2 separate regions of the Homo sapiens genome follow, and region 1 is linked to region 2. Evidence: fine-mapped expression QTL. Tissue or cell type: esophagus mucosa. Region 2 holds a variant in brackets; the other region holds the start of a gene. All regions are shown on one strand. Distances are between the middles of the regions.

The links.
Region 1: THRB starts here. The variant in region 2 is fine-mapped to the expression of THRB in esophagus mucosa (GTEx, PIP above 0.99).

What each region holds. Positions count from the first base shown.
Region 1 is chr3:24,491,069-24,499,408 of GRCh38, reverse strand. THRB (thyroid hormone receptor beta) reads left to right here and starts at 4,559. Exons shown (of 11, transcript NM_001354712.2): 1 at 4,559-4,757. It overlaps THRB-AS1 (THRB antisense RNA 1), which reads right to left and starts at 5,322. Exons shown (of 2, transcript NR_046244.1): 1 at 4,918-5,322. RefSeq lists a silencer at 2,576-2,781.
Region 2 is chr3:24,442,959-24,451,298 of GRCh38, reverse strand. The region is part of intron 1 of THRB (thyroid hormone receptor beta); the gene reads left to right. Among named protein-coding and RNA genes, the nearest start is that of THRB-AS1, 47 kb to the left of the region's middle. The variant G/T (reference allele first, on the strand shown) is at 3,925.

The DNA.
Region 1 (8,340 bases), 48 kb before region 2:
GAGAGATGTCTCATGACTGCCAGAACATGCTCACCTTTTCCAGCCTCATGTGCCTATCCAATAACTCCTTGTGTTGCATGCAGGTAGCATGATGAGCTGGTTAAGAGTATACCCTCTGTCACCCAGTACCCAGGCCTGAGCTTGAGCAGATTATTTGATCTTCCTAATTTTTAACATCTGGAAAATGAAGTACATAATAATACTGTTTCACAGGGTCCTCTGGCAAACTTTAAAAGATGTATGAAATATTTAGGACAGTACGTAAAACATAATACATGTCTAATACATGTTAGCTATGTTATGTACTCCTTGCTATAACCAGCCATGCCAGCATGTCTACTGCATCTCCAACATGCCCTATGCTTCTACCACAATAAAGGATCAAGTTTTTTCCCCATGGCCAGCTTCATGGGCATGTGATCTGGACAGCTGCATACAACCCATGCTGGGAAGGGCTTGGTGCTTGAGGCCTGGCACTTCATTTAATGCTCTGTTGTCACCGTAATGAAATTCCTAATAATTTTATCTTTGAACTTTTGTTTTGTAAATGAAGGCTGATGGGACAATGGAGCATGTGCATGAACAGAGGAAATACAGATAACATGCATAGCTGCTGCCATTCTTTACTTGTTCCACTCACACATAGCATTCTTGTTGCCCCATAAGCACAGAATCCCTGTGGGCACACAATGTGTGGGAGTTCTGCAAAACTCAAATTGAGTATGAGGTAAGCATGTCACATCAATGACTAAGTGAGGACACTGACAACCCCAAAATGGGGTTTGCCACGCTTTCCATTCCAACCAAAGCCTGATTTGAATGCAAAAAGAAGGTAACAACCAAGGAAACTTTCTCTGTCTTTTCTTATGTTAATACTTCTCTGTAACCACTTAGTTTGAAAATGATGACATAGAAGGAAAGAGAAAGATAAGGCAACCTATAGTTCCTTTTCCTTTCTGGTCTCCTTTATTCAAAAGTAAGCCAAAGGCAGAGTGTTGGTAAAAACGGGCATATATCAAGATATGAAATAAAAAAGTTAGTTTTGTGCTGTGAATTAGAGTGTACTTGAATTAGATAATTTTGACCCTGTCATCTTCCCCAAGAAGCTGTCTTTCCTGAAGGGTTGGAGTTCTTACCCAGCTGCTATGGACCAGAATCACTGGAGCCCTCATAGAAAAAATAAGTTCCAAGAACTAACAATGAACAGACAGAAGCAGAATCTCCAGGGCTAGGTCAGGTGGCTGCACAGCCAGCTTGAGAAGTAGCTGAATAAGCAAAACAATACCAGGGGTTCCAGTCCCAATACTCCCTGGCAAAATGTGGTCCATCTTTGATGGATTGGTTCAAGTGCCACCATTTTCCATGAAATCTTCCCTGATTTTTCCCTCCCCTCACGCCCACGTCTCTAACTCCCTGACCCCAAATCCTTCACTATATATTAATTATCTTTGACATCTAGGACATTCTAACTTGAACTTTGCTTCTCTGAAAAGACTCTGGTAACACTGAGGGCATAGCAGGGCAGGGACTAGGTTTAGGCAAGTGAGGCACTCATCCCTGGTGTGAAATTTAAGGGGATGCCAAAAAAGAAAAAAAAAAAAGCCTCAGTAAATCAGGAGAAATATTTTAATGCACTATTTTAAAAATCAAAATTAATGCAACAATTATTCATGATGAACAATACATCAAAATTTTAAATAAAGGCAGGCTCAGACCCTGCACTTGTATCACTGGCCTCACTCACTTCTGCCCAATCCGAGCCCTATGAGGTTCTGTTTCATTCATTTTCTTACACCAGTAGTTGCTAAATAAATAAATATATGAATGAATTGCTTTCTTGAACTGAGTCATCAGCTTAAAGGTATAGATCCTGGTAATGAGGATGTCTATGGTGAAATATGGGAATGGGTCCTGGAAACAGCCTTGGTGTGCCCTCTCAAGTCAGCTGGAACACATGACCACATAATCTAAAGTTTGAATAAATGTTCTTCCTTCAATCAAGTCATCATGACATTCTCCTCCATTGTCCTACCTTGTGTAAAACCAGAAAAATAAATGACATGATCTCTTGGTAACCCTTCTTTACCATCATCATGCAGCCTGTAGGACAGCCCTCAGAGGTCCTGTTCAAAATGGAACCCTAGTAGTTCACGTTATCATTAACATTGCAGTAAAACTGCCCTCCCCCATTGTTGTAGAACATTGTTACTACCACAGTCTCATGGATTGTTTGAATAATGCCACGCCCTTTATTTATTTCATGCTTTAATTGGCTCATTTCTGAATTTTCTGGGCAAAATGAGATCAGAAAGACAAAGCCCTTGAACAAAGAGAAGCAACAGTTTTTGTTACATTTCATTTTGTCCTCTGTATGTCTCCTTCTTAAATAATTTAGCTCCAAGTTATACTCAGGAAGAGAAAAAAATTAAAAGTTCCAGTAGGCCGAGAAGCCCATGATCCACCGTGTTGAAGGAAGATTTGCTTCACCTCACCACCCCCCAACCCCCTCCCGCCCCCCCGCGGTAATACTAAGCTGTTCACACGCTGTGAAGAAGACCCGAAGACTAGGTTGTCAACTGTTGGGGCCTACCTGCGCCAGACTTCTTCCTCAGTGGCCAGCTTTCTCACCCCCCGTTAGCCACCAGGGGGCCGCCTGCTTGGAACAAGTGGTGTAGACGCCACAGCTTTTCTCCAAACCAACCAAAACATTCCGGGGCAGCTTTGGAGCAAAGCCCAGGAACTTCCCTGCAAAGGAGAACAGCTCTCCAACTACAGAAGCCTGCAAGTCCTATGGTGCAGACTTATTAAGAGTAGAGAAGAAAGCACGGACTTCTCACCGAGGACCAAAGGGAAATGGGGTCTCTGGGGCCTGCAACTTTCTTAAAAGTGCATCAGTGAAACCCTGCTTATCCAGCGGGGTGGTTGTTAATGCTGTCAGCAGGGGTGGGGGGCCTCTCACCCCTTTCCCTGGGACGCTCAGAAGAAGCGAGAATAAAACATACATGTCACTGGCTGGAAATCTAGAGAACCTTCCAATAAATAACCTATACATTGTCAGGCAGCTGAGGATCCATATCGTCATAACTCTATTATACTGCGTGTTACACGAATAGATGTGAATATTAAATTATGATGTCGGAATTATTTTAATACTGTCTATAAGAAATTAATTGTACTCTGTTGTCAAAGTAGTTTTGTTGCAACTATAGTTCCTTATTGACTACCTTTTAGCTGAGTGAGGACTCGGTATTTCCCAAGTATCCTTCTAGCTCAGAAAGCAAGTCTCTTCCTGGTCTCCAGGACTTAAGGTCGGGGGCATTTGAGAGACCTATATTTGCCCGGGAAAGATCTCTTGAAGAGTATACATTATTTTTGTCTTCCTGGTTTTATCTATACATTTCCAGGGCAAAGACAAATTAATAGGGCGGCCGTTCTGGGACCTGAGGAGTGTCTCAGCCCTGTACGCGCCTCTCCCACGATATGCATAATGGCGGTGGGGGCGGGGGTGTCCTCCTTAAGGGCAACCCAGGCACGTCCCAAACTTCCATTCGTGGGGTGGCCGTGGTGGTTAAGAGAGCTGCCAGATGGTCGGACCAGCGGAGGCCCCAAGAAGAGCCAGAGCGCCCTGTATTCCCGACACGCGCCACAAGTGGTTTAGGAGCGGAGGGAGGAGCGCTGCGGCACGGGTCGGGCCGGTCGGGCCGGGCAAAGAAGGCCGAGACGTGCTCCTGGAAGACTCGCCCTCCGGTCCCGGTGTCACTCGTTCCCCATTCTTTCCTCTTCTCCAACTAGAGTAATGACGCCCAAACCCGCACCTATGCGCGCAGGCAATCGGGTGGGTGGACGCGCGGCCACCAAACCCACAGCACCGTCACCAACCCTGGGAGGGCACGGCCGGGATTAGGAGGAGGGGGAGCGCCCACACCTGGGGAGGCAGGTGCGGAGGCGGCCGGCCCGGGGACCTCGAGTGCGTAGGACTCGGGGTCGGGGTCGGGGTCGGCAAGCCGGGCGCTGTGAGCGCGTCGGAGCGCTGGCCCGGAGCCTGGCAGGGGGCGTCTGTACCGGCTGGGCAGCCCGGGGCGGTGGCGATGGCTGGCGGCGGCGGCGGGGTGTGCGCCAGGAGGCCATTTCCTCGCTGCGCCCCTGGCGGAGCCGGGTTTGCCTGCTCTTGGCCGCCGCCGCCACCGCCGCGCAAGTCGGACAGCCGTGAGGGCTGGAGGGGAAACCAGGTCACCGGTTCGCAGACGCGGCGCGGAGCAGGCGCCCCGGGCCCGGAGTAAGACAGCGCCCGGGAAGCGGGCCGGGGCGGGCCGGGCACGCGGGGGACCCGGAGAGGCGGGGACTCTGGTGCCCCAGCCGCAGTAGCTTCCTACGCCTATAAAAGTGGAGAGACCGGGGAGGTGCGGCGCGGCCCTGGCTGCGGCCGCCTCTCTTCGCCCAAGGAGTTGACATTTTGCAGGACTCGCGCGACGCCCAGTCGCCGGCGCTCCCCGGGACCCCGCCGCCGGGAGGAGGGGGCGGAGGAGGGTGGAGACTGCGGGGCTTGGCCAAGGAAGGCGCACATCCTCGGGCGGGCGGCCGTGACGCGGCGGGGATTAACTTTGCATGAATAATGTGAGTGCGCTTGGAAAAGAGACCTCCTGCTCCGCGGGCTCGGGGCAAGAGCCCGCAGGCTACCTTCCCCGGGCAGGGGCGCTCAACCCAACCGGCTCCAGGGCACTGGTAATTTGGCTAGAGGACCGCGCGGAGGCAGCGGGGTGAGAGGAGGAGGGGGCGACAGTTCCAACTGTCCACAGGGTGGGCGGGATGGTGACGGAGCGTCGCAAGAACCCGGAGGGGTGCGGGCGGCTAAGCCGAGCGCGCGCGGGCGGGCAGGCGGGTGAGCGTGGGTGGTGGGGGTGTCATCAGCCTGATTACCTGCCTCCGCGGGGCTTCTGCGCCCCGGATCTGGGAGGAGGTGCCCTCTCGTGTTCGGGCACCGCGCGGCGGCAGGCTGGGAGCTACGGAGTGGACAGTGGTGGAACAGGGTGGCCGGGCTCTGTTCCAATCGCAGCGGCTCTGTTCCTCAAACCCCAAGCCCAGCTGTTGACATGTTCCTTGTGAAATGGAGTTTGGCATCCTCAGCGCCGAACCCAGTGGAAGTTTCCATGATGAGGAAGTTGTGTGACATGGGGGTTCGGAAAAGGTTGGCAGGCCAGGGGGGAGGGTTAAAGGGACTGTGGGTCTCCCATCCCCCCTTTTTCGCCTGCCCCGGAACTCCCGGGCTTGGAAAGGAGAATTATCCTGGATGTTGGCGTGCGCCGTGGCCGGTGCCTGGCGACTGGGCTTCTCTCCGCCTCCTGGGGGCTTGGCGGGGATTTCGCTAGCCTCCTGGGTCGCGCTCCTTCGCTTTGCTTCTCTTGGCGCAGCATCTTCCTCTGGGTCTCCTCGAGTTGGTTGTGATACCAATTGTGCCAACTGTGTGACCTCCACCCCCTCGGAGAAGGACTCATTTGGGGGAATTTTCATTCTTAGTGGATTTTGCCCTTCTTAGCGGCAGTTGTCACTTTGGGGGAGGATTTCCCAATGACCATTGTGGGATTATTATTAGTGTTAATTCTTAAGCCTTCTTATTTATTTTAAGGAGGGGGAGGGAGAAAATGAGATGAATTTTTTTTAAATGTACAAGTTTCCCCAAATGGAAAATTTTAAAAGAAGGATCTAGAAACATAACAATTCATAAAGTGAGTCAAAGAAAGGAAAGAGTTTGCATGAACAGCCAAGTTCAGATTCTCCATTCTCCTTTGTCCACATAAATTTAGAATTTTTGAAGATTCAAACACTGTGTAATCAGTAAATATATTTGAAATACCTTCTTCCTCAGCACATTATTGGTCTTGGGTACTAGTGAGATTCAGTTTTAAAGACCTGTGTGGAAGTTCAAGAAATTAAGCATTCCTTGCACAGTGTATTAATATCAAGCACAGCAGTTTATATAATGATAAATGTATTAGGTAATGTAGACCTGTTGGGCAATCTTCACATTATTTGGCTTTAGTTTAGTATGCTTATTTAAATTGTAAGAATGTATAGCATGCAATGCACTGCAAAGAAATAAAAATTGCATTTTAACGTGTTCATGATTCATTCTGAATATTCAGTGACTGACCTGCTCCCCAATTCACTTCTGCTTAATTCTTTCTAATTCCGAAATCAGTCAGAGGCTAGGAAACAATGAAAAACGTGTTTCAGTGCAAAGTATTTTAAGCAGTTGATGTTTTTAGGATGTTTTCATGCCAGGTGGCTAAGTGTTTTAATTGAGTCAAACAGAAATCCAGTACCAAGTGATTTGTTTGGAGTGTTTTATACAAAGACATTGGTGAACGATCATTTATAATTTGAGCATGTTAAAGAAATACTAACAGAATCTATTTTTACCTGATCTCAGAGGTTTATTATATATTGGAAGTGAGACCATCTGCTAGTAAATACAGTTTGGCTTTATTTTATAGCCAGTGAAAAATAAATAATACTGAGTATAGCTACAGAACTGGTTTTTTAAAGTGAAATAATTCCTGTTGGCATTACAATGCAAAGGTATACTTTTATTGACATTGGAATATTGTTACATAAAGCAACTGACATTATGTAGAGGAATGAATATTCCATGTATCTCCTTTCAGTTTCTTTGTAGTAAATTCTGCCATAATTAGAGATGAATTAAGACAACTTTTTAATCCATTATCTTTGGGAAAGGTGATTTCTTAAAATCGCCTTAAAAGCAGAGAAAGCTGTGGATTCCTTTCCTCTCCTGGGGTTTTTGCAGTTGTTTAAAGCATGAGTTGTGTGGAGCCACAAATGGTATTGCATGTTTCTTTTTTTAGTAAGCCCATCTTTTTGATGGAAATCAGAGTAAAGGTGATTGGTTTCTTCGCCCTGGTCTTCTCATTCTAGTGTAAGATTACGTGTCACCTTCTTAGAAAGCCCTTCCCTGACCACTTGAGCAAAGGCGGTCCCTCATTCCTTTTCAGACCCATCACACTGGTTTTTCTCTTTGTTTGTTTGTTTTGTTCTTCTTTTTCTTTCCTTTATTGTATTTGCAATCTGAATTGTTCATTTCAATTGATGCTTGTTGATCGCCTGTATCCTTGCCTAGAATATCGAATCCATGAGCACAGGACTCTTGACTGCCTCACTCACTCTTATTTTCCAGCATCTAGAACAATACTTGGCACACAGTAGGTGCTGGATAACTCTTTGGTGAATAAATTAATGATTGTGTCCAAATATTATGTTCTCAAAAATACCTGACTACACATCCTAAGTGGGTGCCAGTTGGGCATGCCAAGATCTATTCTGTGTGTGCATGTGTATGTGTGTGTTGCACACATTCCATGCTTATATGGTTCACTCTTTATTTTTCTCTCTCTCTCTTTCTTTTCGAAATAAAAGCTGGTCTTCCATTCTGTGTAGTGACAATGCAAAGAGCTATTTCTGCGAGTTCCTCCTAAGGGCATTTGCCTTGAATACATGGAAATCCTCAGCAGCAGAATTTTTCTGACATGTTACCTTGATCCCTGGAAGACATTGACCTTCAACTCCCTGAATTTCAGCAGAATCTTTATGAGTTCCAGAAGCATTGCCAGTGCTAAGAGTGAAATTCCAGGGACTAGACTTCACTGGGTGATGGCAGTGTCTTCTCACTCAGCAGGTCCTGGCAGTGCCTCTGGCAATGGCAGCCCTAAGTGGACCAACCAGTGCATGGTGGTACAATTTGGGCTGCAAAAGTGGTGGTTGGTGAGGGGGCAAAATGTAATGGTCAGGATCCAACACAAGATAGAAATAAATAGGTCTTGGTGATAGCTTTGAAAATAACCTGATGGTTATCATATGTTATTAGTTAAGTCAGCCAGCCTCTTTTTGCCCTCTTTTGCCGCTTCATAAAAGTATTCTGAACCAAATGATGGTGGGAAATATTGCATTATTTGAGTTTTCAAGTGACCAGAGCATAATATCAAAGGAGTCATCTTCAAATTAGTTATTCATGGAAACTCTTGCCAATTGAGAGCAAAAGGAAATTATAATTGAAGATTATGGTGATTTGTTTTTGTGTCTAGAGTATTGACTTTCATAAGTGTGCTGAGTAAATGCATAGTAAAAATTTCACAAAATCAGACTGTTAAAAATGGGAGGGGAAGAAAGATCAAAATCTTGTAGAGGAGGGAAGATAATTAAACTACAATCCTAAGTGCTTACTGCTTTAGAGTATTTAATTTGGCTCTGAGCTTCTTAGTAGTAGCCAAGTTAACAGAAAAAAAGGGGGTCTGGAGGTGGCATGCATTAAACTTGTAAGGATGACAC
Region 2 (8,340 bases):
TCGCGCCACTGCACTCCAGCCTGGGTGACACAGCGAGACTCTGTCTCAAAAAAAAAAAAAAAAAAAAAAGTACATGTAGTGGCTTGTAGCTTTCAGCTGTTTCCCAGGAAAATCAGAAAATCTTCAACTGAAATATTTGGTAATTTAGACGTCATTAGTAAGTGGATAATAAATAATTAAGGTTAGACTTGTCATAGCTCATATGTATCACAAGGAAATATTTATGGAGTTTTGAGCCTGTGGGTCACTTTTCCTATAACAAAACCTGGGTGTGGGAAACCAAATTTTTAAAAGTTATATTATTTACATATTTTTATTTCAATTTGAAGAAAAATTTGTCTAATTTTTAGAATGTTTTCCTGCAAATATAACAGACTTCATAATGCACATTTATGAAGGATTCTGAAACAATAGCAAGGAAGGAGAAAGAGCTGCATGGATTAATCCTGAGCTGCTGCAGCACACTGACTGCATGTCAGTGGCACTTTAAGATTGCAACATTTTGTTTGGTGACCTTCACACCAGTTGACTGTATGCACCTTAATCTCTCTCTCAAAAAAAAGCTGAGCCTACTATAGATTGGCATCTTTTTCTTTTTAACCCCAGTTTTTCATTTACCTACACTGGTTTACCTACACCTGGTTTAATTTGTACAGCAGAATGAAGTTCTTTATTACAAAGCTCAGAAACTCGTCTTTGAGTTTTTAGGAACAGTAAGTACAAAGGTTGTCATGAATTGAGACTGAAAGACCTCATAGATAAATTGGGTAGTACATTTTTAAAGTAAAGAATAAATAACACTTCAGAAAAATGTAGAATACGTTCATAAATGCACAAATGGAGATAAAATGTCACTTTTTGTAATGAGGTTTCTTTCAGACTTTGACACTCGTAAGTAAATGTTCAGAGGAAATAAACGTCAGGGCATATCAGCTTTTGTGAGGGTTGCCAATGTGTAAATGTGAGGTCTACTGTAAATCGTGCTGTCCATTTACCTGCCTCTCTGCAGGAATTTCTTTTTGAGTGTGTAGTCCTTATTTCCCAAGAATAAATACAAAGACTTTTCAGACTATGAATACATATCACATGGTCTCTAAGGTACAGTTGTACATTATACCTGTGGAAGTTTTCTTTCTTAAATAATTAAACGAGATTTTTAATTGTATAAAATAAGAATCTTAAATATTAAGTTATGATGCTTTCTTTAAGAGTGTCTAGTTTCCTTCCTTCTCTCTCCCTTCTTCCCTCTGTTTACTTCCCGGCTAACTCCCCTCCTTTCTTCCTTCTCCCCTTCCTCCTTCTTCCCTCCTTTCCTTCCTTCCTCATTAATTCTTAAAATGTTCATTTGAATGCTTAGATGCTAGATTGTCTCATTTCTGCCTCTATGATTATTGCTTATAAATCAAAGCAGTAAGTCCCACTAAAAACTTAAGAGCCAAGTTAGTATCTTCTTTTTTAGCGTCCTATTATTCACTCAAACTTAATCTTCTTTTTTTCCCATTATTACAAGTTATTACTAAAACTAGCACAGAAAAGCTTTTCACTATATCGCCTCCTTTGAATTAAGATAGTCTCACATATATAGTATTTAGGGAAAAGATAAGGCTAATATTCTTTGGACCGGCTTCCCTATTTTGAAAAAATCTTCCCTCATATCCCTAAACCATACAGACAAGCATTATGCAGAAAACCATTAACATGACTTTCAGTTTTCAAGAGAGAAAGTCAAAAATTCCACAGAAAATTAGAGCTGTTGGACTAAATGTTGGTCTATTAATAAGCAGGAAGAACAATTTAGCTGTTTTCCCTGCTGAGTTAATATATAGTACTGCTGTCTTTCCTGCAGCGGTATTCTCCAGCTGGGTTACTTGGTTCTGGGAATTTCCTCTCAAAATGCCCATTTCTGTCAACCAGCCATCAGACCTGCCTGAGGATAGTTGATATGACAGTGGTGTGACATATTGAATATTAATATGAAAGTGACCTTCCCTGCTGTCAGAAATGGGTCATATATATGTGAAATCCATGAAAATAGATGAGAACAGATTTAAAATAAGGAACACTCCTTATATTGGTATACAGTGTTCACCATGCTTGTACTGAAATATGGCTGTAAGTAGCTTGCCTTCAAGAATTTTTAATAATCATTTCTGAAGAACTGATTTTCCCTTTCATACTTTGTCTTTCATTGGCCAACTTTAAATCACCCTCTAACTAGCCACATGGCTGCCCATCACTCCCTCTGTCAAATTCAGAATTCTGCCTTTGCCTTCAAACTCAAGCCATTCCTGCTTTGACTTCCTTCTGTCTTACATCTGTCCTTGACCTTATTTTGGCTGTTTTGTTTGCCATTCTCTAAATTCGCATCTTTCTGGCCTGCTTTTGCATGGGCTTCTCTGTCATTTATTTTTAACTAGTGGCATAGAGTCCTTCCCTGTCATCTGCTGGCTTGTGTTCTTACTCTCCAAAGCCAGTGGCAGGGGTTTTCTTTCTCAGAAAAGGCATTTCTCTGTTTAAATATTAGTTTTCATACCCAGAACTTGCTGACTCTTGAACATTTAATGTACATTTAGCCAAACAACCTGAATCTGTTATAAATGTGCAAAGACCAAGTTTTATATTTTTATATGTTTTGTAATAACCTCATGACAGGTACTTAATGGGTTGTGTTTATGTTCAGAGAATGAACTTTTAGGTTGTCAAGATGGGAGGTATACAAGTCTTTTTAATAAAGACCCCTAGCTAAAGGCTGCTTCTCTAGCCGATGGAACAAACCAGGACAAGGCCTGCTTATCTGTGTATTGTAGCTTTCCTAATTGATAGCAAGTGCCTCTGAAAAAATGTTTACATAGTTATCTAAAGTAATCATTAATTACCAACATTGTACATTTCATTCTGGTTAACCTCTTTTGGTATCATTACTTTTCTCAGAGTTGAGCAGTAATCATTTTTACAATGGAGACTTTTAAAAGATTTTTTAAAAATAGCATTTTGATCCCTGAATTGCGTTTCTATGTGATTATGCTGATTTTTTCATATATGCGAGTCTTTTTTAAAGTTAAGTTATACTTACATCCTTAATGATAAATCGCCAGTGAAAACCAAGAGAACTCAAGAGAGTCTGACCATTTCTGTACTTGGAATGTGTCAGGGGTCAGTGCTCTGCAAATGGCACATGTGGAAAGAAGGATTCATAATTCAGTTGTCACCCAACTGTATCATAAGAGTTTGAACTATAAAGAAATAAGTAGTTGCTTCTTGCTGACCAACAAGATCGCTACAGGTTTCAAAGAAAGAAAGAATTCGTCATCAAGGGCAGGAAGGTACTTCATAAATAATTACCAAATGAAGTGGTCGTGATGACTAGCGCTCTCTTTCCTTGAAACCTGTAGCAATCTTGGTGGTCAGCAAGAGGCAACTACTTTTCTCTTTATAGTTCAAACTCCTCCGATACCATTTGGGTGATCACTAAATTATGAAACCTTCATTCCCCATCTCCTCCCATTTGCAGAGCACTGACCCCTGACACATTTTATGGACCAAAATGGTCAGGCTTTCTCGAGTTCTCTTGGCTTTCATTGGGGATTTATTATCTAATGTCTACTCACCCCTTCCCCTCCAGGACTCAGATCATAGAGTTTTGCTATATAGTACTTTAAATTTCCATTAAGCTTGAAATCATTCATTTCAAAGAAGAGGGTCATGGTGCCCCTGATTATATACAGGATAAATAGAAATAAAGATATCCCTGTGTCATCATGAAAATGAACAGCTGGCAATTGAACTTATTAATATATTAACAGGACACGATGAAACAAAGGTATTCCCTCTGAGATCAAACCCTCCCATTACTGCAAAGAAGGGTGTAGCATGAGAAAGTTCTCTCCTAGGTTCACTGCAGGTTCACTTAGACCTGTTTGACTT[G/T]TTGAGATTATTTTAAGCTCAGGAGTTAATTTTTTTAAATGGCTAAGCCTAGTTCATCATTACAGAGTACAAAATATTCAATCATACTTAAGGGTTGTTGGGGTTTTCTCATGGTAATGCATTATAATTGATAACATTCATTAATTGCTTCGAATTTCTTCCTAATTAAATTTTAAAAATAAATGCATAACTGCTCTTTGAAATTTGATTGATTTGACTTAAAAACTAATTGGAAAGGGGAATCTGTGCCTCCTAATTTTATAATTAAAATATATGTTGCTAAATAGTTTTCATCTACTTCTATTTTTTAATTCCTTCATTTCTTATAAAAATGGAGGCTATATTTGCATAACTGTGTCCCCGGTAATGATGGGAGACTGGGAAGTTGCAAAAAATACTTTGCAAGGACAACAACTATCTTGACTCTTCTGCCTATTTCCTTGTAAAGATCTCTGTGATTATTTGGGCCCACCCAAATATTGCAGGATAAGCTCCCTGTCTCAAGATCCTTACCTCAATCACATGTGTAAGTATTGCTATAGGAAGTAACTTATTCACAAGTTTCAGGATAAAGCTATGGACATCTCTGAGGACCATGATTCAGCCGCCCACTCTCACATTATATTTCCCAGAACCATAGAGAGCACCCCACAAAGATTTGCTGAATATTGTTGAGTGATCAAATGATATGGTTTCAATAAAGCTCCATGAATTATACTTGTGAAGAACAAATAGACTTCTGATGTCACTGTCACAGTAGGCATTGCAGGAATTTTCAAAAGTATATTTCTTTCTTTCTTTTTTTTTTTTTTTTGAGAAAGATCTTTCCAATGTAGATAGTGTATGGAATGACAATTTAGCAGCAGCAGAATGCACTTTTGCAGAAACACACAAACACACATAACTCCTTTGACAATAACCCAGCATACTGACCTCTCTCCAAACCTGCTTTCTTTTTTGTTGTGGCCAGACTTTGAGTGGAAGGAAAGGAGATTGGCAGAGGTGAGCAGGAAGAGGCCAGAGCTGAAGGAGGAGAGAAGAAATTAGCCAGGTTTGATAGAGAGATGGCTTCTGGGACAATTCTTTTCAGAGGCCAAGGTGGCTGATGAGCCACTTGCTCCACTCATTTCCCTGTGAGATCATGGAGTAAAATTAGAGGAACATAAAAGGCGAAGGCTTCCTTACATCCTTAGAAGGTCATGACCAGTGTGTCCAGCTTCTGATTTCTCATGACAGTATTGTTTTTATTCTTTAATAAATTTTATTCTGATATTCAGTGTATAAAATAAAAATTGCCTACCTTAGTATTCAGAGATAGCTGCTGTAACATTTTGGCATATTTTCTTCCAGTTTTTTTCTCTGCATATATGGTTACATCACAGAATCACAATTATGGTCTGGACAAAGTTTTATATCTTACTTATGTTCACTTGACTAGGAAAATTTTCTCATGACATTAAATATTTTTCAAAACATGATTATTCAATGACTGTATAATATTGCACTTTTGGATGTACGTCTATGGTTGAATGTTTATGCTTCTGCCTAGAATGAATGATACGGCCTTGAATAGTTTTGCATTACATCTTTTTTCACCTTCTTAATTGTTTCTATTGGACAGTTCCTAGGAGAGGCAATCAAAGGGCATGGACGTTTTTATGATTCTTCATCGATGTGGCCAAAGATATTAATTTACACACCTACTCTCTGTGTCGTGACTATTTCTCCTCACATTCAACAGCATTAAGCATTAGTTTTTTAAAAAAAATTTTAAAAATTTTGAATGCTTATTGGATAATTATAAGGATTTTTGGTAACTTGTTGATCTGTGTTCTTTGCCCATTTATCCATTGAGATGTTAATATTTTGCTTATGAACTACCTTTGCGTGTTATGTCTCTGGAAATTATTTTTCCAGTTTGGTGTTTGCCTTTTGAGTATTCTGCTCTCTGATATATAAATGTGTTTCACCTTTGCTACTCCAGTCAAATCTACTATTACTCTCTGACACATTTCACTACCTTTATGTTTAGAAATTATTTTGCTAGGCTCAATAGCTGATAAATAACCACCTGTATTTTACATAATCCTTTATTATTTTATTTTAAAATTTAACATAACATTTATCTGTCTTTATTTTAACATATAGTATGAGATAGCAACATACATTTTAAATTATTCAAATAGTTAATTCAATGCCATTTATTAAATAAGTGCTCTTTTCTTCACTGACTTTTTGATTAAATCTATCTTTTAATTGGTATATACATTTCTGTATCTGGGCTCTCTATTTCTGTAACCATCTATTAATTATTGTAGCAGAACCATATTATAGTTTATATATCCCATTATAATTTGTATTATAGCCTGTTTCTGACATGGTGGCCCCTAACTCTTTCATTTTTCTGTATTTTAAATTTATTTTAGCAGTTATTGTCTCAGCATTCTTTAAGGTGAGTATTGGAATTAATTTTCAAATTTAAAAAATCTTGGACCGGGCACGGTGCCTCATGCCTGTAATCCCAGCACTTTGGGACGCTGAGGAAGGTGGATCACTTGAGGTCAGGAGTTCAAGCCGGCCTGACCAACATGGTGAAACCCCATCTCCACTAAAAATACAAAATTAGCCAGGCATGGTGGCACACGCCTGTATCCAGCTACTTGAGAGGCTCGAACCCGGAAGGCACAAGGTTGCAGTGAGCCGAGATCATGCCATTGCACTCTGGCCTGGGCAACAAGAGCGAAACTCCATCTCAAAAAACAAAACAAAACTTGTTGTACTTTGTATAGAATTATGTGCAAATTATGAATTATTTTGGAAAAGTTTGCATCTTCACAATTTTCAATAATTTCAAAATATCTCTTTTTCAAGTCTTATGTGATATGACAAAAAAATCATTTATTTGTAGAGGTCCTGCATTCTTTTTAAGGTTATTCCTAGGTATTAGATACTTTTTATTTAATTATTTTTGAGATTATTTAAGATACTGTTTTCTAATTGGTGGTTACTGTTATATGAAAGCTATTGCTTTTAGTATTTTGTCTTTTGATTCTGTTTGTTAATGATAATTATTTTTCACTTAGTTCTCCTGAGTTTTATTTATAAACAATTATATTATAATCAAAAAATGATTCTATCATCTTTCCAAATAATGTATCTCTTCTTTGTTGATTATGTCCTATAACATTAGCCAGAATTTCCACAGCAAAGTTCAAAATACTCACTGGCATTCTACTCTTATCTTGTTTCTGATTTTAACAGCTATTTATTTGATGATAGATTTTTTTCTAACCATGTTAAAGAAATTTTTTTGCATTCCTAATATGCTGAGAATTTTTAAAATTAAAAAAATGGGTTTTGGAATACTATAAAATGCCTTTTGGATGATTTTGGTAAATTATCATCCATGAGGAGAATATAATATGGAAGCCAGAGTATGGGATTTATGGCCAGACAGAGCTGGAGTCAAATTATACCTCCTCCTCTTAGAATTGTGTAACATTAAGCAATTTATTTATTCCCTTCGAATTTCAGTCTCTTACTCTGTAATATGAAGATAATCATGTAAATATCTTGTGAGGATATTATGAGTATCCAGTAAGAATTATTTATAATGTGTTTAACACCAGACTTGATATGGAGTATCATAGTTTCTTTTGAATTATTGCATAAGTTTTGCCTTTGATCTATTAAAATGGTGCACTATAATTACAGATTTCCTAATATTTAATCATCTTTTTATTCTTGGACCAAAGCCTACTTGGCCCTGATGAAATGTTTTCTTAACTTACTGCTGTATTCCATATTTGTTTGAGATTATTGTATCAATTTTCCTAATGATTTGGTCTTTAGTTGAATTTTTATGCTATCTTATTAGTTTTGATATCAAAATTATGTAAACTTTATGTAATGATTAGAAAGATTTTATCATTTTCTGTGTTCTGCACCTATGGAAATTATATTTTCATGGGCAATTTTTTTTTCTCTGAAATTCTCTGTATCGGGATTATTTTTTGAACCAGATAATACTTTTATAACTTTTAAAGATTTTTGCTGTTGTTGTTTCTATTTGTTGTTGTCAGATTGTTTTCTCTAATCAATTCATCTATTCAGTGTTTCTACTTCTATTTGTGGCAATTTTGGTAATTCATATTATACCTAAAAATTGTCCTTCTGTCAGTATCGTTTGTTTGTTTGAGATGGAATCTCACTCTGTTGCCAGGCTGGAGTGCTGGTGTGATCTCGGCTCATTGCAATCTCTGCCTCCCAGGTTCAAGCAATTCTCCTGCCTCAGCCTCCCAAATAGCTGGGGTTACAGGCACATGACACCACACCCAGCTAATTTTTGTATTTTTAGTACAGACGGAGTTTCACCATTGTTGGCCAGGATGGTCTCGATCTCCTGACCTAGTGATC